7 separate regions of the Homo sapiens genome follow, and all the other regions are linked to region 1. Evidence: fine-mapped expression QTL. A gene starts in region 1. Each other region holds a variant in brackets. All regions are shown on one strand. Distances are between the middles of the regions.

Region 1 (4,079 bases):
TGGTTAAAGGAGGAATTGTTCCTGCAGATTAGCACCCATCAATTATTTCTTCTTAATTTTTATCAAGGAGAATAGGAAGGATTACGGGGGAGAAAGACACAAAACCACAGCGGAAATTCTCAGTCCTTCAAGGTCTTCTACAGGGTGTTTAAATGAAAAGTTCAACCCTTGACATAATGAGTCAAACAGTTCTCTCAAAAGTTATTCTTTGAATTTAATGCTAAAATTTTCACTTTTTTCTGCTAAATTTCATTGATTCCACTAGAGATTAAAGTGCATACAACATAAACTAATCTACTTCATGCAAAGAAAAAAAGTGTATGTAAGAGGCAAACATTTCATGTGTTAAAGGATTCTTGGGGAAAAAAAGGTAAAATCATGACCCTCATACAAATATAAAAGTGAATACATGATTTTATTTAACTCATTAATAAGGAAATTGGTAAGGTGTTAAAACCAATTCAAAGGACAATCCAAAGAACAGATCAGGAATACTAAAATAAATATGCAAGCGGAGGTGAAACTGTTTTCCTTGGTAGTGGTGGAGGGGAAGGATTGCTACTCCGCTGGATAAAGTTCATTTGTGTATATATAAATAAGAATTATTTTCCATTGTTATTTATCTATAACTTATAAAGTTGTAAACAACTTCCACGGAATCAGACTCAACCTGGAAGGGTATGGTCTCTAGGCAATGCAAAAATTTTCCCCTACACCTGTTAACAACTATAATATCTCCAGACAGAGTAGACAGAAAGTCTGGATGGCAACGGGAATCTACTGGTCATACGGCTAACTTCCTAATTCAATAAGCACGTGACTAAAGGATTTTTTCCTTCCACTCAGATATTTCAGGCTAACTAGATACTGTGTGCTTCTTAGTGTCACTGCTTAGTGGGGGAGCCAGCTCTGAGTGGGGTCATATCCGGACAAGCGAATGAGCTATTTATTCAATGACCACGCAACACTCCAAATCCTCCCAGGGCAACTTGAAAGTAACCGCACCTTCCAAAGGGCACCGTGCAATCAGACTGTGTGTTTGGCCTCCTGTTTGCTAGTGGGGAGGAAGCGGCTTCATGGGTGTACACTACGCATAAATGAATGTGAAAGGCTATTTAGACCTCTGCCTTTTCACCGTCCTCCCACCTGCCACAGGCTGGGCTCTTGTGCTAGAAATGACTTGCTAGCTAGACATCATGGTTCAGGATCTGAGTCAGAGGTTTAACCATTTATAAGCTTTTTTCTTATGAAAAATTGGCACTAATTATAATGTCTAACTGTCAGAGTTGTTGCAGGCTTTACAGGAGACGCGGGCTGTGAAGATGCTTTGTAAATTGTGAAGCGTTATTAAAGAACACATCTTTTTTTTTTAGGAAACCACAGTGCAAATTTAATTGCCGGGGAAGATAACGGGCCTTGGTGCCCTCCAAGCGTCAGCTGAGTTTCCAAGAAGCCGGGCAGCGGGCGCCCGCGGGTTCGTCTCTGGCTCCTCCTCCGCCACAGCAGCCGGGGGCCCGGGTCGGAGGCGGCGGGGGCCGAGCGCCCGGCCTCGCAAGCCCACGGCCCGCTGGGGGTGCCGTCCCGCGCCGGGGCGGAGCAGGCCCCGGCAGCCCAGTTCCTCATTCTATCAGCGGTACAAGGGGCTGGTGGCGCCACAGGCGCTGGGACCGCGGGCGGACAAGGATGGGTCCGCGCGGCGCGGCGAGCTTGCCCCGAGGCCCCGGACCTCGGCGGCTGCTCCTCCCCGTCGTCCTCCCGCTGCTGCTGCTGCTGTTGTTGGCGCCGCCGGGCTCGGGCGCCGGGGCCAGCCGGCCGCCCCACCTGGTCTTCTTGCTGGCAGACGACCTAGGCTGGAACGACGTCGGCTTCCACGGCTCCCGCATCCGCACGCCGCACCTGGACGCGCTGGCGGCCGGCGGGGTGCTCCTGGACAACTACTACACGCAGCCGCTGTGCACGCCGTCGCGGAGCCAGCTGCTCACTGGCCGCTACCAGGTACGCGGCGCCCCCGCCGCCCGCGCCGCCCCCGCCCCGCCTTTCGCCGGCGCCCTGCCGCTCCTACCCGGCCCTTGAGGCCGCGGGCGCTGGCAGGCGGGGCTCGGACCGCCGACCCAGTTATGGGTCCCGGCGGCTTCTCGCCCCAACCTCGCTCTTCCAGGCCGGCAGCCCGCCGCGGCCTCTGCGCATGCCCGGCTCTGGCGCCCCGCGGACCCGCGCCCCGGCCGCCGGGTTGGGCGGGTGGCTTTGTCTTTCGTTTTCTGAAGCTCCGGGCGAAGGGGTTTATGGGAATGCCGGGTGCTGGGCGCCGCGGCCGGCAGGCGGAGCGGTCCTGAGGTGGGAGGCTGGGGAGGGCGTGGGCTGGGAGCAAAGACGAGGGGAGAGGTAAAATGAAGGGGTGCTCGCCGTGGGTGCGACCCTGGCCCGTGGGAACCCAGCGGTGATAGGTTAGGAGTGTCCCACCAAAGATTATTTTTTTCCAGGTTCTCAACACCCCTGGAATGAAACCTGATGCTAGGTTGATTTTTCTTAGGCTGCTGACATTCCTTTCACATGTAACCTTGTATTGAACTCTTCTGAGCATCTTCATTATCGCTTTAAAAGCTTCCCTTTAGGAACGGCTCCACAGTTAACGAAGGAAATATAAATGTAGAGCGTGCATAGATGTTAGATGGCTAAGAATATCAAGAACATTTGCATAGCACTTTGTTGTTTTTAAAGTGAATTATTGAAACAGTGCATGAGGTAGTTGTTTTTACCCCGTTTTACAGACGAGGCAGGAAGCCTGTAAAGGCTCGTTGGCATAAGAATCGCACAGCTAGAAAGTGGTCAAGGCAGTGTCCGTTGTGCTTTTCCTGCATCCACTGGTCGTCCCGGGCTTATGAAATTGGCCTTTTTTCCCCTCAATCTGAATACGATTGTCATATTTCTAAGACCCTGAAGTTATTATGACCATATTAAATACAGTAAATGGGAACTGTTGGATACCACCTGCATGCCTTCACAGAGTACATATGCTGTTTACTCAACAAAAATATTTTGAGCTTACTGTGCTACTGACAGGGGATATATATTTGAATGTTGCCCTCCCAAGTGTGTGTTCGCATAACCTGTCAGATCAACCCTAGCCTCACGTGGTCCTAAGATCAAGAGAAGGGAGGGCTTACTTGTGATAAAGATATGCGCAGTGGTCTGAAGGCTTTTATAAAGAGGAAAGATTGGGTGTTGCTAAGGGTGAGAAATAGCTGTAGCCAAGGTTAGAAATGGGAGTAAAGGATGCTTCCCTTCACCATCCACCTTAGTACTTTTGGCGGTTCTGACCTTGGCTGCTACGTGTAATTAGGAATCCCCTACATTGTGTAAATCTCACCCTGGACACTTTGTGGGAGTAAAGGGATGTGCCAGTAAAGAAGAAGAAGAAGGGAAAGGTGAGGTTTGCCCAAAGGGTTCTGCATTTGCTTTGAAGTAAGAGAACTGAACTCAGATTGCAAAAGAATGGAAGGGCCATTCATTTCTCCAACTTCCTCCCTTCCAACAGAGTTGGACAGGAAAGCAAATACCAACTTCAGAAACCCATTCCTGGGCCGGGAACGGTGGCTCACGCCTGTAATCCCAGCACTTTGGAGGCTGAGGCAGGTGGATCACCTGAGGTCAGGAGTTCGAGACCAGCCTGACCAACACGGCGAAACCCCGTCTCTACTAAAACTACAAAAATTAGCCGAGTGTGGTGGCATGCGTCTATAGTCCTAGCTACTCGGGAGACTGAGTCAGGAGAATCGCTTGAACTCGGGAGGCAGAGGTTGCAGTGAGCCGAGATCGCACCACTGCACTCCAGCCTGGGCGACAGAGCAAGACTCCATCTCAAAACAAAATAAAATAAAAAACCCATTCCCGTAATCAGTTGCTTTTGTCCCCTAACATCCTCCCCCACCAGTCACCAAAATTATGTCTTGGAGAACAAACTTTAGTATTTAGAGTACCCCATGGTTATGAAGTAAAGGATGAGTAGAGAAGCTGGGCACTCTGAAAGGTTTAGAGGCCTCTCAGTGTAGCTGATTCTAAAGCAGCCTTGCTTCCCCAAA
Region 2 (4,079 bases), 180 kb after region 1:
TCTCCTCTCCAGGCTTTGAAAGCATTTGGGTAATTACAGCTTGCCTTTCTGCCTTTGGTTGTTAGTTTTAGTGTCTTAATTATCTGCCATGTCAAAAGATTTCTCCTGATCCCTCTGAGCTCTCTCCCTTTTGCTCCTAGTGGTGTTTTCACCCTGCTTGATAAGTTAGAATTGTACAGTGGTTTCCATTTCTTCTGTCATATAAACAGTAGGCAGTTCTCAACCTTCCCATCCTCTCTAACTTACTCTCTACTTTTTTTCCTTAAGAGAGGCTTATGTGATGACATTGACCAAGTAAGTCCTCTAACCTCAGTGATAGGGTGGTTCGGATGGGGTGGCAAGGAAAGGAAAAGGGAATTGAATCAGTTTTGATTTTTTAAAAATCATGCTGAGCTGAAGTGAAACACTTTTTTTTTTCCACAAAAACTGAGTCTGAAGGGATCTTTTTTTTTTTTTCATTCCACATTTTGGTTACATCTGCAGTGAGCAGTTGCAAATCCTGAGAGACTTCTCTTCCCTGGCATTTGTTTCATTTTGCAAGAGTCTCACTGTGCCTGTGTCTTATGTGAGCTCCTTGAAATGAAAGAACGTTAATGGCTGAAGACTGTTAGAGCCATTTGGGTGCCTGCTTATACCTTTCACTCAGCAGGACTGCCAGGGGCCCTGTCTGGCTCTGCCAGGTGCCCTCGGGTGGGAGAATAAGGGCACTGAAACAACAAATAGGCCCTTGACCAGACCTCCAGCTCCTTGCCTGCAGGGAATAGCACTGGAGTACAACGTCTAGTACAAAGTAGGTGTTCAATAAATAACCATCAAATGGGATAAAACCAGTTCCTAGCCCAGCACAGGTGCAGGGTAGATGCTCAGTAAATATTTGTTGAAGAAACGAATACATTACTATATCCCATGGGGGAAGACCTCTGGTCTTCATAGCACTTGCATCATTTGTAGCTCTGCAAGGGCTCTGGGCTGGATCGACTAGGAAAGCAGCCTGAGCAGGGAAGCAGATGGCTGATCAAGCCCTCCAGCCGAGGAGACCAGCACTGTTTCTGTGGGAACTTGGATGCCACTGACCTCACTCATGGAAGCTTGCAAGAGTGGTGCAGGCCCCAGTGGACCAAGGCCAGGGCTCTGTCTGCTCCCTTTGGCAGTCGGAAAGCAGCACACACTTAGCTTTGCCAGGACCCAGCTTCAGCGGCCTTCATAGCCCAGTAATTACCTCGTGATCAAGGGAGGGAGGGATGTGTGTAGAAATCACTTTTTAGTAGCACATATTTCTCTTGGAAAAGCCCCAGTAAGCTGCCGACTTTCTCTCAAGTGTTCAAAGGATACCAGGGAACTGACGGGCTAATTTAATTGTATTAATACAAGAGGCGGCCGTCCCTAGTGCAGAGGGGAGTGCGTTAGGGAGAATTGTCTGTCGGGAGGCTGGAGTTCCAGCTTCAACATGGAAGTGAAAACACTCTCCAGGAAAGCAGACGAGTCCCACTGGGGAGGAAACTGACTCTCTCCATGGCCCACAGGGCCTGCTCTTCATCTGTCTGAAGAAGCCTCTTTATTGCATTCAGATAAGTGTTTCACTTGAAGGAGAGCAAACACAACCAAATAATGACCTAGATGTCCCTTCCTCATGTTTTCAAACAGTCCCCCTTCTCTTTAATCCCTGCAGGAGAAAATGTCCTGGAGTTGAGATCTTAGGAGACATTGGTTCATTTAAGTCCATTATGAGACCTTCACAAGGCACCCCTTAAATCTGGCAGTAGGACCACAGTTTTATCCTGGCCACAAATTTAAAGACTTTGATCCTATTCCCTCTCAGGTATCAATGCAAACAGAACAATTCTAACATTTTTAGTATGGCCACCCCAACGTGGACACCAATTAGCTAAGCCAGGGAACTTTACTTCTATTTCCTCATCTATGCAAAGGGGAGAACAGGTTAGATGATGTCTAAGGCCCCTCAAGAACTTGAGTGCTCTTCATTCTGTAATCATTATCTCTCTAATTAGTTTCTCTTCTCTAAACTTTATTCTCCTCCACGGCCTCTGTTTAGGGGTGGAAGGTAGATGCTGTACCCTAGTGTGTGTTTCCCGGGGCTGTTTCTCAGCCTGCTGCTCTGTTCTCTCCACTCTCTATCTGTCCCTATTGCGATCATTCTCAAATCTAACTGTGACTGCAGCACTCCAGTTCATTCATTTATTCCATAATATTTCTCAAACACCCACACGGTGCTAGGTGCTGAATGAACAGTACACTGGTGAACAAGAGTCATGATCCCTGCTTTTTTTGGATCATATACTTTTCTAGGGAGACATGTATTAAATATATTTAATTTAATTTAACAAATATAATTTAAATAATATTAAATATATTAAATGAATATATAATGATAAATTGTAAGACGTGTTATGGAAGATGAACAGGGGTTGCCCTGATTTAATTTGGGAGGTCAAAAAATATCTGCTCTGAGGAAGTGTTATTTGATCTGAGACCTGGAAAAGGAGTTATCAGGCAAGGAGTTGTAGAAAGTGCTCCAGGTAGA[G/A]GAAAGAGCTAACACAAAGACCTTTGCAGCAGGGAAGGGCTAGACTGGATGAACAGAGCTTCGTGTGCCCAAAGAACTGAAGGAAACCAGTGTGGTTGGAACATACACAGTGAGAGCAGTGGGGTGAGATGAGACTGGGAGAATGACAGATTAGTTAAGATAACGCTGGCTGCTGGAACAAACCAAAACTGACATTCGAACAGTATAGACATTTATTTCTCATTTGCAGAAGTGCAAACTAGATATTCCTGAGCAGTTAGATATCCCTGTTCAAAGCAGTGTCTTGGAGACCACAGCTCCTTTCATTTTGCAGCTCTGCCATTTTTAATGACCTGCCAAGGCCAGCGTGCTTCTCTGCATGGAAGGCTGTGCATGAGAGGGTTTTCTGGGCCCAGGCCTGCCTGGAAGTGGTGCTCCCAACCGCACTCACATTCCGCCAGCACACACCCAACTGCAAGGGAGGCCGAGAAATGTGGTCAGAGTGTGATCCCAAGAAGGAGACAGGGCAGATGACGCAGACACTGTGGGCCATGTTGCAGTTTCAGTTTTATTCCTAGCGTGCTGAGGAGTGTGAGTGAGAGTGCACCTGTGGCAAATCCATCAGCACTTCTAAACCTACACGTTCAATTGCTAATGTCATGCAATTCATCTTCCTCCAAAAGCAACATCTCTCACGTGTTCTTCCAGTGATGCCATTCCAGACCTAGCAGTCCTTTTTCCTGCTCTATTCATCGTCTAGACTTACTTGACCAATCCAACCCTGGACTGGTTCAGTACTTCCCCGACTAGGCTCTTCAATTGGTTTCTTTCTGCTCTGATACAGAATGCTAAGGTACGTATTTACAATGTAGACTATCCCCTTCCAGTGACAGAGTTATTCCTGGCTGTTGTATAGAGCAACTTTTTTGTACTATCAGGTCATCCTAGAAACTTAATTAGTAATCAGAGTATAATGAACATGGAGATGTGTCTTTCTAAAACAGGCCTTTCATCCCTGCTAAAAAAAAATTTTACTTGCTTCCAAGTACCTACTGAATAAAGTTCTAACTTCTATATGTTGGAGGTACTAACGCAACCCATCTTTTCCTAACAATTCTTACTTTGTCCTCCTCAAGCCAGCCAGGGTGCTCAACTATCCAGAGTCCAAACAAACTTGGTGAATTCTCACCTTGTACTCTTCCACACTCTGCCTGGGATGTCCTGTTCCTGCTCATCCTCCTCTCTGAATCCTACTGATGTTTTAGTGCAAGCCTTCATCCCCTAAGTCTCACCTTCTCTGGGAAGTCTCCCCTCCAACCAACCAGAAATAGACTTTCCATCTCTGGAGTTCTGTAGTGCTTACTCTTCAAAGTAATTAATGCTTAAATTAACTTGTGTCTTACCACTCCTTTGGCATTTATCATGTATTGCCTTTTATTGACATTTATTCTCCCAATTCATTCTAAGCTTCTTAAGTAGAGATACTTTTCCTGGTATCTAAAACAGTACCTTGCACACCCTCCAAAAAATTATTAATTAATTTAATGTTTTTCTGTAA
Region 3 (4,000 bases), 210 kb after region 1:
ACTCTTGTCTCATTTGTTATCCCAACCTGGGTTCACTTGGCCCTTCTCTTGCTCTTAAACCACACCGAGGTGTCTAATTTCAACCCCTAATGCATTTAAGAAGCTGATAAAATCTGCAACACTCCTGCTGTTGGCTGGAGCATGTGTCTAGAGGTGGGGGTGGCTGGGTTTATCCCCCTTTCCTAAGCCTTGGGACAGCTGGGAACTTAACTTGAAATAGGAAGTTCTCACTGAATCCTGGAGGCTGGAACAGCTGGCTCTTTTAGACTCACAAGTCAGACGTTCGATTCCCCTCTGCCAATAGCCAGTTTTATTGGAGTGAATCACATTTCTTACGCAAATGAAGGGAGCAGACAGTGATTAATGGTTCTGTTGGCCAAGGCTTCTCCCTGTCGGTGAAGGATCATGTTCAGGCACTCCAAGTGAACCACCCCTCTTGGTTCACCCCTTACTCACTTATCTCATCACAGAGCATAAGGCCCATTTTGTTGTTCAGGTCAACAGCAAAATGCCTGCACCATGACTGTGGCTTTTAAAATAAAGAAATGTGTTTTTATCGTAATTTATTTCCCCCCAGCCATTGCTCACTCTGTCTAGACTTCCTGCCACTTCCAATTCTTCTGTGGCTTTTCCTGCCTTTCCTTTTGACCTCAGTAGTCCTATCCCTGGGAAGGCCACTTTGCTTCTCTACCTGAGCACCCCTGATTTCTGGAACGCTGCTGAGCCCTGCCTTACTTTTGCCCCTAGGGCTGAAGCTAGAGGCCTCCCCGTAATAGGCGGTGGAGTTGCTCTGTGAGGATGTTCATGGTAGACACTAAGAGGGCTGGGTGGGAGATGCTTGGCTCTGTGGCATCTGTTCAGCGAGGCTTTTCCTATATTGCATGGAGTTAGTCATTGTGATTGTAGCTTTATTTCATAATATATTAAGACTTGCACTGCTATTTACTAGCAGTGAGAAGAAACCTCAGGAAAGGATATGAAAAAGCAAGTGGCCAGTGTCTGGGATACTGGGCCTTGGTAAAGCAGAGGAGGGCACACCCACAGTCCTCTTATTCTCTGTTTTACTGCTTGTTTTGAGGTTCTGGGGTCTGGCAAAGAGGATGCAGTTTGACACCTGCAGCCCTTTCTCAATCCCACTAATGTCTTACTAATGTGGAACAGTCCATATTAGCTCCAGAGAGTGTCAAACCCAGAGAAATGTGTGCAAAAATGATACTCTTTTCTGCATTAGCCCCACCATTGTGTTCACCAATGCTTGGAACACTGCCTGAAGGCACTCATTTTTTAATTTTTATTTTATTTTTAATTTTTTATATCTTTATGAGACGATCTCACTCTGTCACCAGGTTGGAGTACAGTGGTACAATCACAACTCACCGTAGCCTCAAACTCCTGGGCTCAAGTGATTCTCCCACCTCAGGCACCCAAATAGCTGGAACTACAGGCATATACCGCCACACCCAGCTAATTTTATTTTTTGAAAAGACAAGGTTCCCTATGTTGCCCAGCTGGTCTTAAACTCCTGGGCTCCAGCAATTATCCCAGCTTGGGCTCCAAAAGTGCTGGGATTACAGGCATGAGTCACCATGCCTGGCCTCATTTTTTAAAACAAATGAATAAATGGACAAATGAGTAAATGAGAAAGTCTCACACCATGAAAGATGCTAGTCCAATGAGCTGAATACAGAGGTAATATAAATGTCTTCCAGCTGTTGCTTTTCTGTTCTCAAGCTGCCCCTCCTGGGGTAGGAGCATAATCTACATCACTGGGCAGTCACAGGACACTCTATAGCAAGGTTGTAGCGTCCTCTCCAGTGGGGGGAGAAAAGGAACTGTGCCTACCAAAGGTACTCTCTTGTCAGCAATTTCCATTTCTATACTTTATGGGACACTAGAAACTAAAAGCAACAAATAATCTGATATAAGTCCTTGTATAGTCATCCTTCAATTCAGTAGCAATATTTTCTGGTCACTACTAACCTGTATTGTATTAAAATGAGACTATTGGAAGGAAATGGTGCTAAAACTAATAACATCTCTTACCAACCTTTACCCAACTCCTGGGTTGGCAAACAGCTGACCAAACTGCCATCACCTCCCACTTGGAAGTGTATGGCCGACAGCATGAAATAGCTGAGCCCAGATGTTCCTTCTGCATCCTCCGAATCCCAGGGCTGGGTGTAGGTAGCCGTTGGAGGCCATCGCTACAGGGCACCTATCTGTTATCGCTGCTGTCCTCCCAACAGCTGTCTCCAGTTCTAGTTCCTTGGTTTTCAGGCACAGTGGGGGATGTTCTGCACCCAGTGGACTTCAAAAGAGTTTTGAAGACTTAATTTTTTGTAAAACAAGTACTTGAGATTTTGGTTTATCCATAATAGAATGTATTTCATTAGATTCTCTGATTCTATATAAGAATGTGAAAAGATTGATATATTGTTGTTAGAAATAATGTTATTTCTTTCCAATTTTTTTTTTTTTTTTTTTT[G/TTG]AGATGGAGTCTCGCTCTGTCACCCAGGCTGGAGTGCAGTGGTGTGATCTCGGCTCACTGCAGCCTCTAACTCCCAGGTTCAAGCTATTCTCCTGCCTCAGCCTCCCAAGTAGCTGGATTACAGGCATACACCACCACGCCTGGCTATGTTTTGTATTTTTCGTAGAGATAGGGTTTCACCATGTTGGCCAGGCTGGTCTCAAACTCCTGACCTCAAGTGATCCACCCACTTCAGCTTCCCAAAGCACTGGGATTACAGGTGTGAGCCACTGTGCCCGGCAAATTTTTTTACCTTTACAGAAGGTTTTGCTTATTTAATTGTGAGCTCATTTTTCTTTGTTACTTTTGTCCCCCCAGATTTGGGGGACAAAATAAAATTAATCTTTTAAAATGTGTCAGCCATATGTATGGGGCTTCCATTTGGGGTGAGGAGAAAGTTCTGGAACTAGATAGTGGTCATGGTTATACAACATCATAAATGCAATTACTGCCACTGAATTGTATGTTTTAAAGTGGTTAAAATGTTAAGTTTTATGTTTTATTACAATTTTTAAATGTGTCAACCAACTTTATAGTACATAAATTATATCTCAGTAAAGCTGTTAAATAAATAAATATAGTAAAAATTTTAGAACTAAAAAAAGTGTCAATCATTGCCCTAAGAATATAAACTATAAAATAAGGTATTAGAGGGAGGTCAAGGAAGGGTAGGAGTGAAAACAAAGTGACAGTAAAAGAGAGTATTAGCTCTCTATTGCTGCGTAACAAATTACCCCAAAACTTAGCAGCTTAAAACAATAAACATTCATAACTTCACACATTCTATGAGGGTAAGGACACTGGGAGTGGTTTAGCCCAGTGGTTCTGGCTCAGGGTCTCTCGTGAGATTGTTGTCAAGCAGGCCTGTGGTCATCTGAAGACTTGAGTGGGGCTGCAGGCTCCACTTTTAAGCTGACTCACTCACAAGGCTCTTGGCTGGAGGCCTCAGCTCCTTGCCATGTGGGCATCTCCACAGGCTGCTTGGATGTCCTCACACATGGCAGTTAACTTCCTCCAGAGCAAATAAACAGGGAGCCACAGGGCCTTTCATGACCTAGTCTCTAGAGGTGTACACTGTCACTTATACCATTTTTCTATTTGTTAGAAATGAGTCACTAAGGCCAGCCCATATTCTAGGGGAGGAAAATCTTACTTTTCAAAGGGAGTGTCAGATTTGTGGACTTATTTCACACCACATCAGAGGAAAATGGTCTCGTTTAGCCTCCTGGGGAATAGATTGTCAAGTCCACATGCATTTATCAAATGCTGCTGTTTGAAAAGAGATGGTAGAAAAAGCATTCAACTTTGCTATTTAGCAGTAGACTAACCATGAACAAATCACTTCATCCTCTCTGTGCCTCGGTTTTTTTCCTGGTAAAGTGATGAGTTGAATTAGATAATTGCTAAAGTCTCATATCCCTAGTGTCCAGAACAATGCCTGGCACACAGATATTCTATAAATGTTGGTTGATTGGC
Region 4 (4,074 bases), 220 kb after region 1:
TTAGATGGAGTCTTGCTCTGTCACCCAGGCTAGAGTGCAGTGGCGTGATCTCAGCTCACTGCACCCTCCACCTCCTGAATTCAAGCGATTCTCCTGCCTCAGCCTCCCAAGTAGCTGGGACTACAGGCACATACCACCATGCCTCTGGGTTTCACCATGTTGGCCAGGCTGGTCTGGGACTCTTGACCTCAGGTGATCCACCTACCTCAGCCTCCCAAAGTGCTTGGATTATAGGTGTGAGCCACTACACCTGGCCAAGGATCTATCTTTGAAAAGAGGAACAAAAACTATGTTTAGGTTCAGATAGCATGTTTTGGATTAATATATAAATTAGAGGACTCCCTACTGGTCAACACAACCTGGTTAGAAAAATACATTGATGGCTAAACTGGCAACATTGTTGCCCCATGTAGCTGGGGCCAGGCATGGTGATTCATGCTTGTAATCCCAGCACTTTGGGAGCCCGAGGCTGGCAGATCACTTGAGGTCAGGAGTTCGAAACCAGCCTGGCGAACATGGCGAAACCACATCTCTACTAAAAATACAAAAATTAGGTGTGGTGGTGCATGCCTCTAATCCCAGTGACTCAGAAAGCTGAGGAAGGAAAATCACTTGAACCCGTGAGATGGAGGTTGCAGTGAGCTGAGATTGCGTCACTGCACTCCAGCCTTGGTGAGAGAAAGACTTTATCTCAAAAAAAAAAAAAAAAAAGTTAAGTAGCGAAGCCAGAGTCATTATGTCCACCACCCCTCTTACTGTTTGGGATGAGGCAAAGTCCCTGCTTCTCAGGCAACAGTTTTGGGGAGTCACCTTCTGAAGACAGGACCTGACTGGGGCTGCTGTGGGCTTCCGCTGATGGTGCTTTTAGAATATGTCATCCCGGCTGGGGCGGGTGGCTCATGCCTGTAATTTTAGCACTCTGGGAGGCCAAGGTGGGTGGATCACGAGGTCAAGAGATCGAGACCATCCTGCCCAACATGGCGAAACCCCATCTCTACTAAAAACACAAAAATTAGCTGGGTGTGGTGGCGGGTGCCTGTAGTTCCAGCTACTCAGGAGGCAGAGGTAGGAGAATCGCTTGAACCTGGAGGCAGAGTTTGCAGTGAGCCGAGATCGGGCCACTGCACTCCAGCCTGGATGACAGAGCGAGACTCTATCTCAAAAAAAAAAAAGAGAATATGTCATCCTGGTGATCACCCCAGTCCAAAACATCTAGTTACTAAGCAAAGCCAAACTAGGTCCAGCTAACCCATCCCCAGATGGCGGGAGACAGCCTCTCTTGGGACAGGGAAGGCATTGAGCAGTAAGCAGTGGGTGCCATTAGCCCTTCCCTTTGTTACTAAGGTTTTATCCATAACATCGTCAGTGAGTAGAGATTGACCTTACTTTTACCAGTACTTATTATACATTTTTAAGATTCTTGCTGGATTGACAGACTTTAAAATGTTAATTTGTGTTTCTTTCACTGCCAGATGTTTGCACTTTTCCATGTGTTTATTGGCCCCCATGGCTCTTTCCTGAGTGGCCTGACCAGCCCTCTCCCCCAGTCTCCTGGGCCCCATAGTAGAGGGAGCAGAAGAGGGTGGGAAGGAGCCCCAGCTGGGAGGAGACAGGAAGGAAAAACCAGCCTTTGTTTGAACCTGAACCCTCGTCCCAGGCTGGCTACCAGTCCTCCTGTTCCAGGTGGGCATTCTGAGCACACAGCTGTCTCTGATTTCTATTTTGTGTCTGGAATTGTGGCAGGAGGTGAGGAAAAATGAAGAGGTAGCCAGAGAATAGTCAAGGTCCTTTTCCTTTCTATGGACAGAGCCAAAGTGAGACTTGTGAGCACATTGGAAAGGCTACTCACTTGGTGATCCTTCAAAGTGATCTTTTTTTTTTTTTTTTTTTTTTTGAGACAGAGTTTCACCCTGTCATCCAGGCTGGAGTGCAGTGGCACAATCGTGGCTCACTGCAACCTCTGCCTCCCAGGTTCAAGCAGTTCTCCTGTCTCAGCCTCCTGAGTAGCTGGGATTACAGGTACACAGCACCACACCCAGCTAACTTTTGTATTTTTAGTACGGAAGAGGTTTCACCGTGTTGGCCAGGCTGATCTCAAACTCCTGACCTCAGGTGATCCACACACCTCAGTCTCCCAAAGCGCTGGGATTACAGGCATGAGCCACTGCACCTGG[G/C]CAATGTTCTTTTAATGTTGGGACATTAATATTGGAATAAGGGCCCTGCTGGGAAGAGCTAGAGAGGGAAGGCCACTGGGCGCTGCCCAGTCCTTGCCCTCTGATCCAAGCACACAGGTCTGGTCCCAGTTGGAACACCCTTTGGCAAAAGGAAAGCCCTACAGATAACTGACTGCCTTTTTTAGAAAGCAATTTAACAACCACTTATTTCTTACTAAGAGTAGCCCTTGGGACCATCTCACCCTCACTGCCAAGGGTCTTACTCCACCCAACCCCACACAGGCTTTCCCTGAGAGGGGTTCTGAGGATCTCTGGGGATGGTGCTTTGATGCCTTCTGGCCCTTCTACTTGGGTTGGCCCATCCCTGAGTCTGGATCAGTTCTGGGAACCCCTGAGCCCCTTTTCTTTTGAGCAAGGCTCAGTGCAGGAGGTCATGCCTTCTGTATAAACACCTTATTATAATGAAAACTTTCATTCAATTTTTAGCCTTCCTTTTCCAGTATGAATAATCCCAGTTTCTTTCATCTGAACTCCTGAACCTCCTTCAGCTCTTCCAGTCCACCAGCACCCTCGTGATTCTGGGCTTAACACAGGTGAGTCCCTTGGTGCAGTTCATTCTTCTCTTTTCTCTTTGCTTGACTAACGCATCCTTCAGGTTTAAGCTGAAAGGCCCCTTTCCCTGGGAAGGTTTTCCTAACCCCGCTGAACTGGAATGGGAGTTCCTGACTCACGCATCTCCCATAGGAGTGGTCATCACACTGTATTGTTAATCAGTAGAAATGGCCCGTGTCTGCTTTGTTTCATGGAATATCTGCCTCAGAGCAGGGCTTGGCTTAGGTAATACTAGTAGGATGAGTGTTCGATTTGTTGAATTCCAAGGACCTAACCACCTTCTGATTTTAGGATGACATTTTAGTCCTTGATTTCCCTCTGGTTCTTGTTCCAAACCCTGACGTTCTGCCTGCAGACCCTGCATTCTCAGCCTCCAGGCAGCTCCACCCTGCTGCCTGCTCTAGGGAAGTCTGTATCTGGAGCTTCAAAGGGCTTGTTCTCTATTAGCTGGGAGGGCTTCAGCACATTCGTCAAATCAGGGCGGACTATTACACTATCCAGACTCCTCAGGCAAGTTTTGTTTACCCTGGGATCTCCTCCAAGATATAAGCTTATGGCTTCAAACACTTTTTATGGTCTCCAGATTTGAACAGACTCAGATTTTCCCCCTTCATCTTCCAATCCTTCCCTAAGATTTTCCCCCTTCGTTTGTTCATGCTTTTTTACAAATGCTTTTCCACGTGTGACTTCCCTGCAGAAAACTGGCTCCATCACTTATACCTGGTGCTGAGATTAGTCTTGCAAATGCCGAGGACTAGTTACAAAGGGCAGGTGATGTGCTTCCTGATGCTGTTTAGTTATCAATCCATGTTTACAGAGGCGTTCCTTCTTCCACAGGGTGGGTGTGGGTGTTCTTTTGATTTAGACACAGTGAAGATAAACTAGTGGTTTCCTTAAGGAAAGTGAAGTTGGAAAAAAAATGTAAGGCAGGAGTTGAGGTTAAAGAAGACACAAGCTTGGTCTCCTATGTGTAGACTAAGATAGCTTGAGTCTTGGTGGTCACAGAGGCCAAACTCGTCTTGGCCCCTCCCTTACCTTCCCTTTCAGAACGTTCCAATTGCTTCTGGGTTCTGTGGCTCAACATACTCCCCCCGGTTATCCATGTCTCCTGCGTACTCTGCCCGCTCCAGTTAGTCCTTGCCTCCAACTTAGCTGAGAGCCATTTAAAGTATGCCACCTCCCTGGATGCTGGCAGAGGTTCCTGGTTATCCCAGTATTCAATATCTAAGCCCCAAAGTCATAAGGTGGCATGGGGAAGCAGAAGTTGTTACAGCACAGTGTTGACTGA
Region 5 (4,079 bases), 34 kb after region 1:
CAGATTCTGGGAGTCATTCTCAATTTAATTTATTTTGAATATCCTGGCATAGCATTTTGATCAGTGCTGGTTTTGAATGCCTAGAGAAGTCACTAGAAAGAATCAATTAAAAAAAAGATGCTAGGACATGTAACACTGGTGTAGCAAAATTATTCCTGGGAAATGACCTCATTGTTGCAAGAATTGGAAGTCATAAGTTTATAAAACAAGTCTTTGTTCTAGAGATCACAATTAGACAATTTCAGGACAAATGATTTTCTAAAGTGAAAGTATATATGGATTAATGTATTGTACGTGGGCTTAAATGTGCTCAGACAGAAGTGAAGATGCTAGTTCTGGAAGACTGTATTAAATATCTCTAAGTGGCTCTTGTGATAACATTCCCATCAAGAATGCATGGGAGGCTGGGTCTGGTGGCTGACGCTTGTGATCCCAGCACTTTGGGAGGCCGAGGCAGGCAGGTCACTTGAGTTCAGGAGTTCAACACCAGCCTGGGAAACATGGTGAAACCCTGTCTCTACAAAAAATACAAAAATTAGCCAGGTGTGGTGGCATGTGCCTGTAGTCCAAGCTACTGGAGGGGCTGAGGCTGGAGGATTGCTTGAGCCTAGGAGGTTGAGGCTGCAGTGAGCTGAGATTGCGCCACTGTACTCCAGCCTGGGTAACAGAGCGAGACCTTGTTTCAAAAGAAAGAAAGAAAGAAAGAAAGAAGAGTGCATGGGAAGAGGTGGAATACAATTTTTTTCATGATATTTGAGAATGGAAAAATATTTTAAGATAAATATTTCCTTTATTATATGATTGCAAATGTGTATGTATAATTGTACTTTCAAACAGATAGTTGACTATTTCATAAACATCTATATTTATTCAAGCTGGTAGTAGTAACATTTGGAGCTTCTCACTGAGAAAATGAGGATCACCTTAAATAGGATTGTCTTATATTTTGATACTATATTAATAGATATCTTAATCTTGGATCATCTTTGCTTTGTTAGGTTAAATCCAACTTGACCGTGCCTATGTATTTTTATTATACTGATGAATTCAGTTTGCTAGGGTTTCATTTAGGATTTTTGCATCAATTCAGAAGTGGAAGTAGAGTTAGTGGTTTCTTTTTTGTGTCAGGTTTTGTTGTCTTGGTTGTGCTCACTTCATAAAATAATGTGGTTAGTTTTGCCATCTTTTTCTATGCTCTGGAATAGTTTATAGAATGTTGGAAAGATCTTTCTGTTTAGCTGGTCCCTGAAGCCTTTTGTGGAGGCATTTAAAAAATTATTTCCATAGTTTACATTTTTTGCTGAATTATATCTAGGTGTGTGTCTTTAAAATGTTTTGAAATTAATTTTGCCTGAAATATAGTGAGCCCTGAAACTGCATGCTGAGATGATTATTCACTCCAGGAGGCTTTCCTTGTTCCTATTTTAGCTTATTGCTTTTGTTCTACTTGATTTATGTCTCAAAAATATCTTTAATTACTGTGTTGAATCCCTGATTCAGCTTTTCTCTCATCCTTTTCATTTTTTTTGTCCTTTTTCTCAGGCTTTGGAGCTCTTCTGCATTACCAGTTTAGACACTTTTGCAATTTTAATCCTACACCTTAATATCTCCAACATAGATTATTGTTGATTGTATTTTTAGTTTTTTTGCAATGCTGTCTCTGTTTCAATCAGTACCCTTTTCTTCCAAGCTTGTTAGTATAGTATAGTATAGTATTTAGTAGCATTAAACCTCAATGTAACCCTGTGAGATAGTAAATGGTTTCTTGATCCCATTTACCAATGAAGAAATCAAAACTTCTTTTTAAAAAATAAAATAAAAAAATAAAGATAGGGTCTTGCTATGTTGCCCAGACTGGTCTCAAACTCCTGGGCTCAAGTGATCCTCCCACCTCAGACTCCCAAAATGCTAGGATTATCAGTGTGAGCCGCTTAAAGAAATTAAGCGATTAGTCCAAGGCCACACAGCTAACAACTGAAAAAGCCAGAATTCAAACCCAGATCTACTTGAGGTCAAAACCCAAT[T/C]AACCTAATCAGTTGTCTTTTTGCATCTCATTTTCTTTTCCATTTATTTCATCCCATTGTACTGCATTTCTACGCTTGTGTTCACAGGACCCATCCTTTTCCTGAACCTTTCTGAATAGAACTTTTCTAAAATCTTTATTTTTATAGGAAGTCATTGCCAGCTAGATGCTCTTCCTTGGAGTATAGTGGTGAAGGATCTGCACACACAGAATGTGTGGCCGTCTTGTGGCCTCTGGTCACTGTTTCCTGGTTGATTCCTTCTCAAATCTGCAGCTTGAGGTCAGGTTGATGCATACACCTCACAGAGTTCCTGGTGGCATATAGGCATTAAGTGTTCTACTCTATTGAACCTGACCCACCTAGTTACAGTTTCTTCTTTTTTGGCACTCTAATTCTTTGACAGGCTAAAAGAACCCCAGACTCTTCCTATCTCCACATTTTCAGGGCTTTATTTTTGGGGACATTCCTCAGGATACAGTGTGCCAGCACTGCCAGACCTTCTCTTTTCCTGCCTATTGTCTTCTGGGAGTTGTGATCTCTAAGCACACAGAAGTAGAGGAGGTAATAATTCTCCTCTGCTTAAATTAGTGCCATCCCTTCTCAGGCTGTCTTCCTGCCTCTCTTAATCTAGGTGAAGGGCTCTGTGTCATGAGGCAAAGCAGGGTGGGCCAGTTCTTATTTCCTCAGCCCAGCTTCTCTGGTCTTGTAGTTTCTGGACATGTTTCCAAGATTCTGGCATTATAAGCTGTCTGTCCATCTTGGTTTCTTATGTTGTGATGGGGTTTCATCTTGTTCTGTGTTTGTTGTTTTCGCAGGGTAGTGGTCCAGAGAAGCAGCACTAGTGGCTGTTAGGAAGACACCATTGTATTCTGGATGCTTGTCACCATGGCTGATCTTTGTAGTTGCTAAATTCCAGGAACCTGCACAGGAATCTGACCTGGAGTAAAATGAGTTAAGGTTAGGGACAACTCTTGAGTAACTAGGTCATGAGTTAAGACTAGGAAAACCGATTCTGCAACCCTGAAAACAGTGATTGACCTCAACATCTTAATGCAGCCATTGTGTATTTATATTAACTCTTTTTTTTGTTTGTTTTGTTTTTTTTGAGATGGAGTCTCGCTCTGTCACTCAGGCTGGAGTACAGTAGCATGATCTTGGCTTGCTGCAATCACTGCCTCCCGGGTTCAAGTGATTCTCCTGCCTCAGCCTCCCAAATAGCTGGGATTACAGGCGTGTACCACCATGCCTGGCTAATTTTTGTATTTTTAGGAGAGACAAGGTTTCGCCATGTTGGCCAGACTGGTCTCGAACTCCTGAGCTCAGGCAATCCACCCACCTCAGCCTCTCAGAGTGCTCGGATTACAGTCATGAGCCACCACGCCCAGCCTGTATTAAGCCTTACCAGAATAATTAGTTTTACTTACATTTAGATGAGGGTTTGAATATAAGGAGAAACCTAATTTGCATTTCTTTCTCCAGAGACTTCTGTGTTTATTGACAATTTCATTTCCTGAAGTTGAAATTAATAATGTGCTATAATAATGTAATTATAACCCAAGGACCTGGACTAACTAATCACAGAGCAGTGATTCATTTTTTCCCACTTCTCTCACTTTACTTCACTTAGCCCTGTACTTCTTTATAAGGATAAGAATACTGGTTGCATTCAAATCAATAAATGTTGAGTCCATTAGTACAGAAAACCATGAAAACAATCTAGCTTCCTGGTGTTGGATTATATTTGGTGATCGGTAAAGGCAAAGGCATAATTTTTAGATTTTGATGTTTGATAAAGCTAACTTTTAAAAATTTCTGTTATAATCTGAGAGAAATCCATGATTCATTCCTTGCCACCTCTACCCATCATCTTAGCATAGTTATTCTCAGTGCGCTGTCTGGGGACCACCTGCAGCAGTGGAGCATTTGTTAAAAATGCAATTTTCAAGGTGATGGCTGCACAACATTGTGCCATGTTCTAAATGTCACTGAATTGGATACTTTAAAATGGCTAATTTCATGTAATGTGAATTTCACCACAATCTTAAAAATTCAGTT
Region 6 (4,079 bases), 170 kb after region 1:
AGTAATCCTCCTACCTCAGCCTCACAAAGTGTTGGGATTACAGGTGTGAGTCACTGTGCCTGGCCTTGCATTTTTTAAAAGTGATAAGTAAATGCTATATGACTTCAGGTAGAGATTATATCTCATGTTTAATTTGTATAACTGCATAAGTAGAAAAACTGTTCATGAAAATATATTGGCTGGGCGTGGTGGATCACACCTGTAAACTCAGCACTTTGGGAGGCTGAGGTGGGTGGATCTCCTGAGGTCAGGAGTTCAAGACTAGCCTGGCCAACATGGAGAAACCCCATCTCTACTAAAAATACAAAAATTAGCCGGTGTGGTGGCACATGCCTGTAATCCCAGCTACCTGGGAGGCTGAGGCAGGAGAATCACTTGAACCCGGGAGGCAGAGGTTGCAGTGAGCCGAGATTGCACCACTGCACTCCAGCCTGGGTGACAGAGCAAGAGAAAAAAAAAAGAAAGGAAGGAAGGAAGAAATTTACTTATTCCATCTCTGTACACATAATTTGTAAACTTTTTTATCATCAATTATTATTATAAATTTTTTGAGACAGGGTCTCACTGTGTTGCCCAGGCTGGAGCGTAGTGGTGTGAGCACGGCTCACTGCAGCCTCGATCACCTGGGCTCCAGCAATCCTCCCATATCAGCCTCCTGAGTAACTGAGACTATAGGCACATGCCACCATGCCCGGTTAATTTTTGTATTTTGTAGAGACAGGGTTTCGCCATGTTACCCAGGCTGGTCTTGAACTCCTGAGCTCAAGCAATCCACCTGCCTCAGCCTCCCAAAGTGCTGGGATTACAGGCATGAGCCACCACATCAGCCCATCAATTATTATTAAACTCATGTGTACCAGTACAATTTCAAGCCCTCTAAGCTGCATTTAATGCTAAATTGTGATATCATGTGTGTGTGTGTGTGTGTGTGTGTGTGTGTGTGTGTGTTTGAACAGAATGTTCATATGACTTCATTTCTATAATAATGTGATAATACAAATATTTGGGGTCATTTTAATCGTATTAGCATTTATCTTTACCAAATTGATTTGATTGTTGTGTAGCCACTTCTCATCTGTTACATATACACGTTTTACATATCATTCAAACTTGAAATTTCCTTAAACAACTTTCCCAGCCTGGTTTCGGATGATTGCTTGTTGAGACTTTGTCCATGCTCTGTCCTCCCCTCCCCACTGTAAATACTCTTCTTTTGGGCTAGGGGGCTGTGCCCTCCAGGGTATTGTTTTCCTTCCTGTTCAGTGCCCATGCTCTTGCCTGTGTTTCTCCTGTACCTTTCCCAGGACCTAGCAGACAGCCGAGCACCTGCCCACTGCTCTGTAAATACTGACCTGCATCTCAAGTGGGGTAGCCTTTGTGTACTTTCCCATTTCCAAGTTGATTTGCCTGTGAATCCCATATGTGAACACATATGCAGATGTCCCTGATGTGCTCTTTCCTGCTTGGAGGCACATGCAAGGATGTGGCACTTTTTCTAATTGCTTGAACAGTCAAGTGGATCTCTCTTAGGCAGCACTTGGCCAAAAATTCTGAATATTTAATCACTGGTACAGGATTAGTTCAGTTGGCCAAAAAGAAAAAAAAAATGTATGGATGAAATGTGAATACACTGTTAACTTTTTCATCTGCCTTTATAATTAGTGTTTTTTCAATATTAAGTTTCTGCTTTTTATACTGAGTTTTTAGGGAAAAAATATGGGAAGGATTCCATATTCATTGCTTCACACGATCTATAGTTCCTGAGATAACTATATAATTATGAATGTTGATACACCCATAAGAGACTTTGCTTTTTCCTCTCACACATCTGTTTTGCTTTAGGCAAGAGAACTTTCTCATGCCAGAATGGCTGCAGTGGATGTA[G/A]GCAATCTGCTTTATGTTGAGCCGCTACAATTCACAGATGCAAATGTTTAAAAGGTTAACATGGTTATTTCTTCATCTGAAACAAACGTCCCTAGTCACTACTTTTGTCCTTTAAAAAAAATTGTATTCTTTTATAAATCCATTGTGTGTAATCCTTATACCCTTGTCTCATAATCCTCATATCAGAGCTGAATTAACTCTTTTGTGGCCTCCTGTGATGAATTTCAGTTGTCCTACTAGTTTCTCTTGCTGGTGTGATTGTGTCCTCTTGATGGAATTTAGGTTCTTAGGGAGAGAATGAGGGAAGCAGCTTCTCTACCCAGAACAGAATCCCACTAACCGAAAGAATGCTGCCCTGCAAAAAAGTTTCTAGTGTATCCATGTGTGATCTCAATTATTTAATCAACAAACATTCCAGAGCATCCATTGTTTCACTGTACTAGGAAATGGGGGCAAGACCAGGATAGTATACGGAGGCTAACCTCAGCAACTGCAGTCCAGTTGGAAAGATGAAACCTAACATGATGATAGGATGGCAGCGGGTTGTGAGTGTCAAACGCATGCTTCTGTACTGCGCTCCTGCTGCCTCCAAAAGCAGGGGGAGCCTTCAGTTCATCACACCTACAGCTCTGGACATTTTTTCATGTTGTTAAATTAATCTAACATTGTAGGATCTGAATTTTCTATAGAAACTTTACCTAACTTTTCTTGTATTGCTAATTTGTTGTATTGAGTAAGCCTTCTGTGTAGAAAACAGTTTAACTATGTTAACAACACTATGTCAAAGATTCAAAGCCTTTGAGAGCTTAGGAGAAATCCAACCCCAGTCATTTTCTGACACAACTGAACACAGTACTCTGTGGTTGAAAGTTCCTGAAACTCCCAAAGCACAGGAAGGCTGACTACAGATCCTAAAGATGTTTAACTCACATAGTCCTTGGTGGCACTTACTGTTTGCAGCTGGAGGGCCTTGTATTTTCTTAAAATGCATCCTAAATAAAAACTCAAAAGCCATTCAATGCTAATTCAAGTTTCATGGTTAAAGGCGCAGCTTTGCTGGCATCTAGAATTAGAACCGTGTGGTGTGTCCCCCAGAAAACGAGCTCTCATGGCAAAAACAGACAAACTCTACCCCCTGCCAAACTAACTGTCAGCAGAAATCTGGTCTGCTTTCTGAAATGGGATGTAGGTTTCCAAATTCTCTAGACAATCTCTTTCCAAAGCAAAGGAGAAACAAATAACTCACAGGCACCAACTGCATTTTCTGTTCAAAGCAAGAAGGGTTTTCACTGTGCTGTTTTTACCTGTCATTTCACAACTCAGTTCTCTCTGGAGCACTTGTACCAAGGGTACAAGAAAGTCATGAGATCAGAGAGCTGGTTTTGGACATGCACTTAATCACTCCCATCCTTATTTCCCCTGCTTCCCTGATGCCCCTGAATAGCAGGCTCTGTCCCCGAAAGAGAAATGAGAGTTAAAGAAATGACCACTTAACCTTTTCCTTTGGTAGGGAGGTTCTAGGAGGCCAGTGAAGCTTGCGGGGGTCGGGAAATTTGAGAAGTGAATGGAGATTAGGAGAACAGAGTTTGCTCCAGATGAGCTTTGGAGCTGTGCCTTTTCTTCTGGAACTCACTACCGGATCAAGGGGTCTAGTGGGGTGCCCACCACACTGGCCACCAGACCAGGCTTGATGGAAAGGGCCCAGAGATGGGTCCTGCTTGTGCAGTCTACAACTGCCAGCATCAGCTGCCCCCTATTCCTCTCTGTGGCCCATGGTCAGCCAGAATCAGAGGGCCAAAGCAATGGGCCTGTAGCTTGAGAAGCATGTCAGCAGGCTGGGGTTCAAGGCCAGGCCTACAGGCCCGCAGTGGAGAGGGCAAGGCTGGCTCCAGGTCCGATGGGCAGGTTGCCAGGACGTGATTTTCAGAGCAGGAAAGTGGAGTGAAGCGTGACTGGCAGTGAGTGTGAGCAGACAGCTGCAGAGTCGTCTCTGCCTAGTGTTAGGCCTGGCCGCAGGCTCTGGCGGCCCTCAGCCTGACCGTAGGATGGGTCTCCCAGCTTCAGCTGAAGGCAAGAAGTGCCGCTGACTTGGGGAGCTGAGCCAGACCTGGCTCCTGCCCTCCTCCCTGAACGTGCTCCAGGATCATCTGTCTGCCTGTTGTTCCTCACTCTTTTTAGCTCTCCACGGGGCTGGC
Region 7 (4,079 bases), 150 kb after region 1:
ATAAACTCTCTCTAAAGTTATTAGGAAAATGTTTTTATTTAATTGTGCCTAATATTTTGGGGTATTACAGTGAACTCTACTTTTAAAGCTGCGTAGTTATGTATTAATATACTGGCCCTGAAATTTTTGAGTTTTCAACCTATAGTCCAGAAAAAGCCTTTATTTTTAATAGTTGCCCTAAAAATTTAACACAAAAGTTTTACTTAGCTAAATCTAAATTTAATCAGTAGCTTTACCCCACTTCCAAACAATATAAATACTTTAAAATGCTTTCATTTGATTTCCTTTCCTTGCTTGCTATTATTTTCCAGGATTTTAACTCTGTTTGCTTGGTTTTATTTGTTTGTTTGTTTTAAGACAGAGTCTCACTTTGTCATCTAGGCTGGAGTGCAGTGGTGTGATCATAGCTCACTACAGCCTTGAACTCCTGGGCTCAAGGGATCCTCTTGCCTCAGCCTCCTGTGTTGCTGGGACTACAGGCATGCACCACCATGCTCAAATTATTATTATTATTAGTAGTAGTAGTAGTAGTAGTAGTAGTAGTAGTAGTACAGACCAGGTCTCAGTATGTTGCCTAAGCTTGTCTCAAACTCCTGGCTGGCCTCAAGGGATCCTCCCATCTCAGCCTCCCAAAGTGCTGGGATTATAGGCGTGAGCCATTGTACCTGGCATACTTGTTTGGTTTTAAGCCCACAAATTAGACATCATCATCATTCTATTTAGATTTTCTCATATTTACCATTTTCTTTACATATCATTTCTACTTCCATTCAGAGCTTCTGGGATCAAACCGTAGTTCCTGGCATTTTGGACTGGTTGATAGTCTCCAGGATATTCAGGCAGTTAAGTGTCTCCGAAAGAAAATGAGAAAAGAAAGGTCCTGGGAAATATGCCCCACCCCCACCCCTGCAGTGCTGCCGCTGCTGTCCCAGGACCGTGGGCACCCCTGAATGTTTCTCTTCCACTGTCTCTGATCACTGTGATTTATGGAGTAGAGGGGGACAATGACATCTGATAGAATACCAAAGTTAAATATGCTCAATTTAAGGAGCTGTTATTTATTCAGAGATCGTGTCTTTCCTACCTTTTTTGCTGTTTATTTTATAAAATAATGGTGATGGTAGTTGAAGTTTGTTATTTTGTTTTGTTTTAAATTAATTCATTAAGATTTGTTTTTATATTTCCTTACTTGGCAAATACAAAGTTGTGAATCACAACCCAGATTTTTTGAAATTGTATTGGGCATTGAAATCCCAAACCACTGCTATCAACAGCTAACTGTGAGTTTGGCGTGTGGACACTGGGACACCTGAAACCATGTCTTGGTTACGTCAGGAGCCTTATTGATTATTTATATTATGTATGAATCCTGTGGTGTTAACAGTACTTTGCAACCTTTAGTACTTAGCTGAACTGTATTAGATTATCAGGGAGTCCTCAGTACACCCTCAATGATTTAAATTGTTTTTAGCTACTTCTGTAAGGCTGAGTCTACACTAGCAAAATGACCTGGGTGCCTATTGTGCTCCCTACATACATCTGGTGATGTTTATGCTCCCAATTTCTTAAGAACACTGCTTTGAGAGTCACACAACCCAATATTCTACCAATAACTTACTATGTACCTTCATCATTTGTAAGAAGAGGGGGTTGAACTAAGCGATCTCCAAGTCACTTTTCAGCACAAATGTAGGTTGTGATTGTATTTGTGTGTACACATTTTTTAAAGCCTTAAAGAGATCTAGGTATTTCTCATGTATTTATATTAAATCTAAGATCCGTGTTGCAAATTTGGACATGGAGGACATTAATTTTTCTGATGTAGGTTACTCTTTAAGAGGCATGTTGCATCTGTAATATTGGTGCCACCATTTTGGCAGATGCAGTTTCTTCATTTACTCGTAAGTGTTCAGTATGAAGTCTATATGAGGTGACTTGAGTTCTCATTTCTCTGGTGTAAAAAATGGTCATGTTTAAATAAGGCCACAATATTTATTTCAAAGGGTCCCAGAATCATTTTTTAAAATATCTTCATATGCTTGACACTGAAGTTCTTATGTAAAGGGTTCGGTCAATGTAAACAAACGATGACTGCTTGAAGATGCACCAGCCGTGATTGTGGAGACCTCCAAATTCATGACAGAGTTGTTAACTGGCAGGTTTGTTATTTCCTATAAGTACAAGGAAGGGAAGTATTAAAATAATTCATGCCCATTAGAGAGAGGAAATT[A/C]ACATTCCCTTAAAAATTGTTTTCCAGTGAAGGAAGCCCATCCCCCAGAATTGAGCTGCTGCATAATATTGACCCGAACTTCGTGGACTCTTCACCGTGTGAGTACCAGTGCATTGCTACTAGATTAAATCTAATTGGCCCACCAAGATGGTTTGATTACCTAGTGTGTCTCTAGCCTAGCTTTCTCTTTTTTCCTGAGTTGCTATAAAGGTAAACAGTTCTTCGGGACATATCTCCCGCTCATCTCAGAGGGCAGTGTGCTGTGAAAGCAACACCAGCTTATGAAATAAGAAAGGTGAATTCTATTCTTGCTCTGCCGCTTACTAGCCTTTAAGCCATTGAACTCTCCCTGCCCCAGCCTTCCCCATTTACAAAAGAAGAACTCATGGCATCTCTGAGGCTCCTTCTCACTGTAGATGTCATGTTGCTGCCCTGTTCTTACCTGAGAGCTCCAGAGCCACCTTCCAGAAAACTCACAGTCAGATAAGCCACAGTTGGGTTCCAGGTAGTGTGAGCAACCACATTATCTGATTGGGCTGGTCAGGTACTGCCCAACACCTGCTGGGTGTCACAAGTGTGACTTTCCTAGCAGTCCTGGAAGTGATTCCGCTTGATTCTGCCTCCTGCCTAAATTAACCTGTAAAGAGCCTTACCATTTCCTTCAGGGCAGGCATGCATGTAGTGCTTCCAGATCACAACGGACTGTAATAGGCCTGTATAAATACCATGCGAGTGGCCCTAATGCCCTCAGCATAGTGAGTTTGGGCATAGAAAGCCTTAGCAATTAGACCCTTTGCCCAGCTTTCATCATAATGCTCATCTTGCAAACAGTGCCCTTATATTCCCTTATTCACATGGGGGCTCCCATCCGCTCCTTTCTGGACATACTGCTGCCCACTTAGTTCAGGCTCTCCTTACTTCTTTGTTTTTTCCAAACTGCATTATAGCTCACCACAAAATATTCTCATTCAGAGATTCCTGCTCAGAGAATTACCCCACAGTCATTCTAAATGTGTCACCAGGCACTCGGGCCCCACTTGCCCGGCCAGCCTCACTCCAGGCACTCCTTGTCATGTTCTCACTTCCTAGACACTTGTCATCTCCATGCAGATCATCGTACTGTCATGAATATGCTTTTCCCTATGCCTGAAACACATTTTCCCTACCTGTCTATAATCTCTCTCATCCCTTAAAAACCCAGCCCCATGTCTCCCTCTGTGAATGCTTTCCAGAGCCCCAGAAGGAGCAGTCACTCCTTCCTGTGTGCATGTGTCTCCGTATAGCATCCCTCACATGTTCGTGTTTGTGCCTGCATTTCCAAGCTGAGAGCTCCTGGAAGTCAGCATCTCCTGTATTTTTTTATCCTTGTCAGTTAACACAAATACTGGGAGCTTGCTAGGCACTCAGTAATGATTACTTGATGACTCAGTGGACAATTGGAGAGTTGAGATGCAATAAAGACCAAGTGGACACATTAAGACCTGGACAGGAAAGGGCCCTGAGACAGGCGAGAATGGCTACATCGTGGAGAAATTTCTATTTCTTTTGGAGTAAACGCATGTCAGTGAGAGAGGCAAGGGCAAGGTTTGAGCCCTAAGGACTGTAAGAACAGTCTAGATTTGTGCTGTCCAGTATAGTAGCCACAGGCCACATGTGGCTGTCAGGTACTTAAAATATGGCTAACTGTGGATTGAGATGTGCTGTGAGTAGAATATATACATCCGATTTTCAAGACTTAGTACACCTATGTATTATATGCATACAATATTATAGATTTATTATTTGTTGAAAGGATAATACTTTGGATATATTGAATTAAATATATTGTTAGTGTTTTACTTCTCTCCTC

Direction of the effects. Alleles are on the strand shown, and positions count from the first base shown. SD is a standard deviation of normalised expression in the study named. Not every link is listed here.
For the expression in monocytes of the gene that starts at base 1,622 in region 1, TTG is the low allele of the variant in region 3 and G is the other (small effect, 0.32 SD a copy in Fairfax 2014).
As copies of C replace G in region 4, the expression in monocytes after interferon gamma of the gene that starts at base 1,622 in region 1 goes down (small effect, 0.37 SD a copy in Fairfax 2014).
For the expression in monocytes after interferon gamma of the gene that starts at base 1,622 in region 1, G is the high allele of the variant in region 6 and A is the other (large effect, 1.4 SD a copy in Fairfax 2014).

Evidence for each region. PIP is the estimated chance that this variant, and not a neighbour inherited with it, causes the effect.
Region 2: its variant is the best candidate, but not a certain one, in a credible set for the expression of ARSB in blood mononuclear cells (TOPMed, PIP 0.64).
Region 3: its variant is the best candidate, but not a certain one, in a credible set for the expression of ARSB in monocytes (Fairfax 2014, PIP 0.68).
Region 4: its variant is the best candidate, but not a certain one, in a credible set for the expression of ARSB in monocytes after interferon gamma (Fairfax 2014, PIP 0.68).
Region 5: its variant is the best candidate, but not a certain one, in a credible set for the expression of ARSB in whole blood (TOPMed, PIP 0.53).
Region 6: its variant is the best candidate, but not a certain one, in a credible set for the expression of ARSB in monocytes after interferon gamma (Fairfax 2014, PIP 0.86).
Region 7: its variant is the best candidate, but not a certain one, in a credible set for the expression of ARSB in prefrontal cortex (BrainSeq, PIP 0.69).

What each region holds. Positions count from the first base shown.
Region 1 is chr5:78,982,853-78,986,931 of GRCh38, reverse strand. It overlaps ARSB (arylsulfatase B), which reads left to right and starts at 1,622. Exons shown (of 8, transcript NM_000046.5): 1 at 1,622-1,995. The coding sequence starts at 1,684. RefSeq lists a silencer at 1,440-2,299.
Region 2 is chr5:78,800,591-78,804,669 of GRCh38, reverse strand. All of the region lies in intron 6 of ARSB (arylsulfatase B), which reads left to right. Among named protein-coding and RNA genes, the nearest start is that of LHFPL2, 150 kb to the right of the region's middle. The variant G/A (reference allele first, on the strand shown) is at 2,543.
Region 3 is chr5:78,776,337-78,780,336 of GRCh38, reverse strand. It overlaps ARSB (arylsulfatase B), which reads left to right. Exons shown (of 8, transcript NM_000046.5): 8 at 1-3,128. Among named protein-coding and RNA genes, the nearest start is that of LHFPL2, 130 kb to the right of the region's middle. The variant G/TTG (reference allele first, on the strand shown) is at 2,486.
Region 4 is chr5:78,765,451-78,769,524 of GRCh38, reverse strand. It overlaps LOC124900191 (a long non-coding RNA gene), which reads left to right. Exons shown (of 5, transcript XR_007058832.1): 2 at 1,473-1,683; 3 at 2,661-2,767. Among named protein-coding and RNA genes, the nearest start is that of LHFPL2, 120 kb to the right of the region's middle. The variant G/C (reference allele first, on the strand shown) is at 2,175.
Region 5 is chr5:78,948,960-78,953,038 of GRCh38, reverse strand. All of the region lies in intron 4 of ARSB (arylsulfatase B), which reads left to right. Among named protein-coding and RNA genes, the nearest start is that of ARSB, 34 kb to the left of the region's middle. The variant T/C (reference allele first, on the strand shown) is at 2,025.
Region 6 is chr5:78,809,462-78,813,540 of GRCh38, reverse strand. All of the region lies in intron 6 of ARSB (arylsulfatase B), which reads left to right. Among named protein-coding and RNA genes, the nearest start is that of LHFPL2, 160 kb to the right of the region's middle. RefSeq lists an enhancer at 3,357-3,857. The variant G/A (reference allele first, on the strand shown) is at 1,885.
Region 7 is chr5:78,837,605-78,841,683 of GRCh38, reverse strand. ARSB (arylsulfatase B) reads left to right here. Exons shown (of 8, transcript NM_000046.5): 6 at 2,258-2,328. Among named protein-coding and RNA genes, the nearest start is that of ARSB, 150 kb to the left of the region's middle. The variant A/C (reference allele first, on the strand shown) is at 2,231.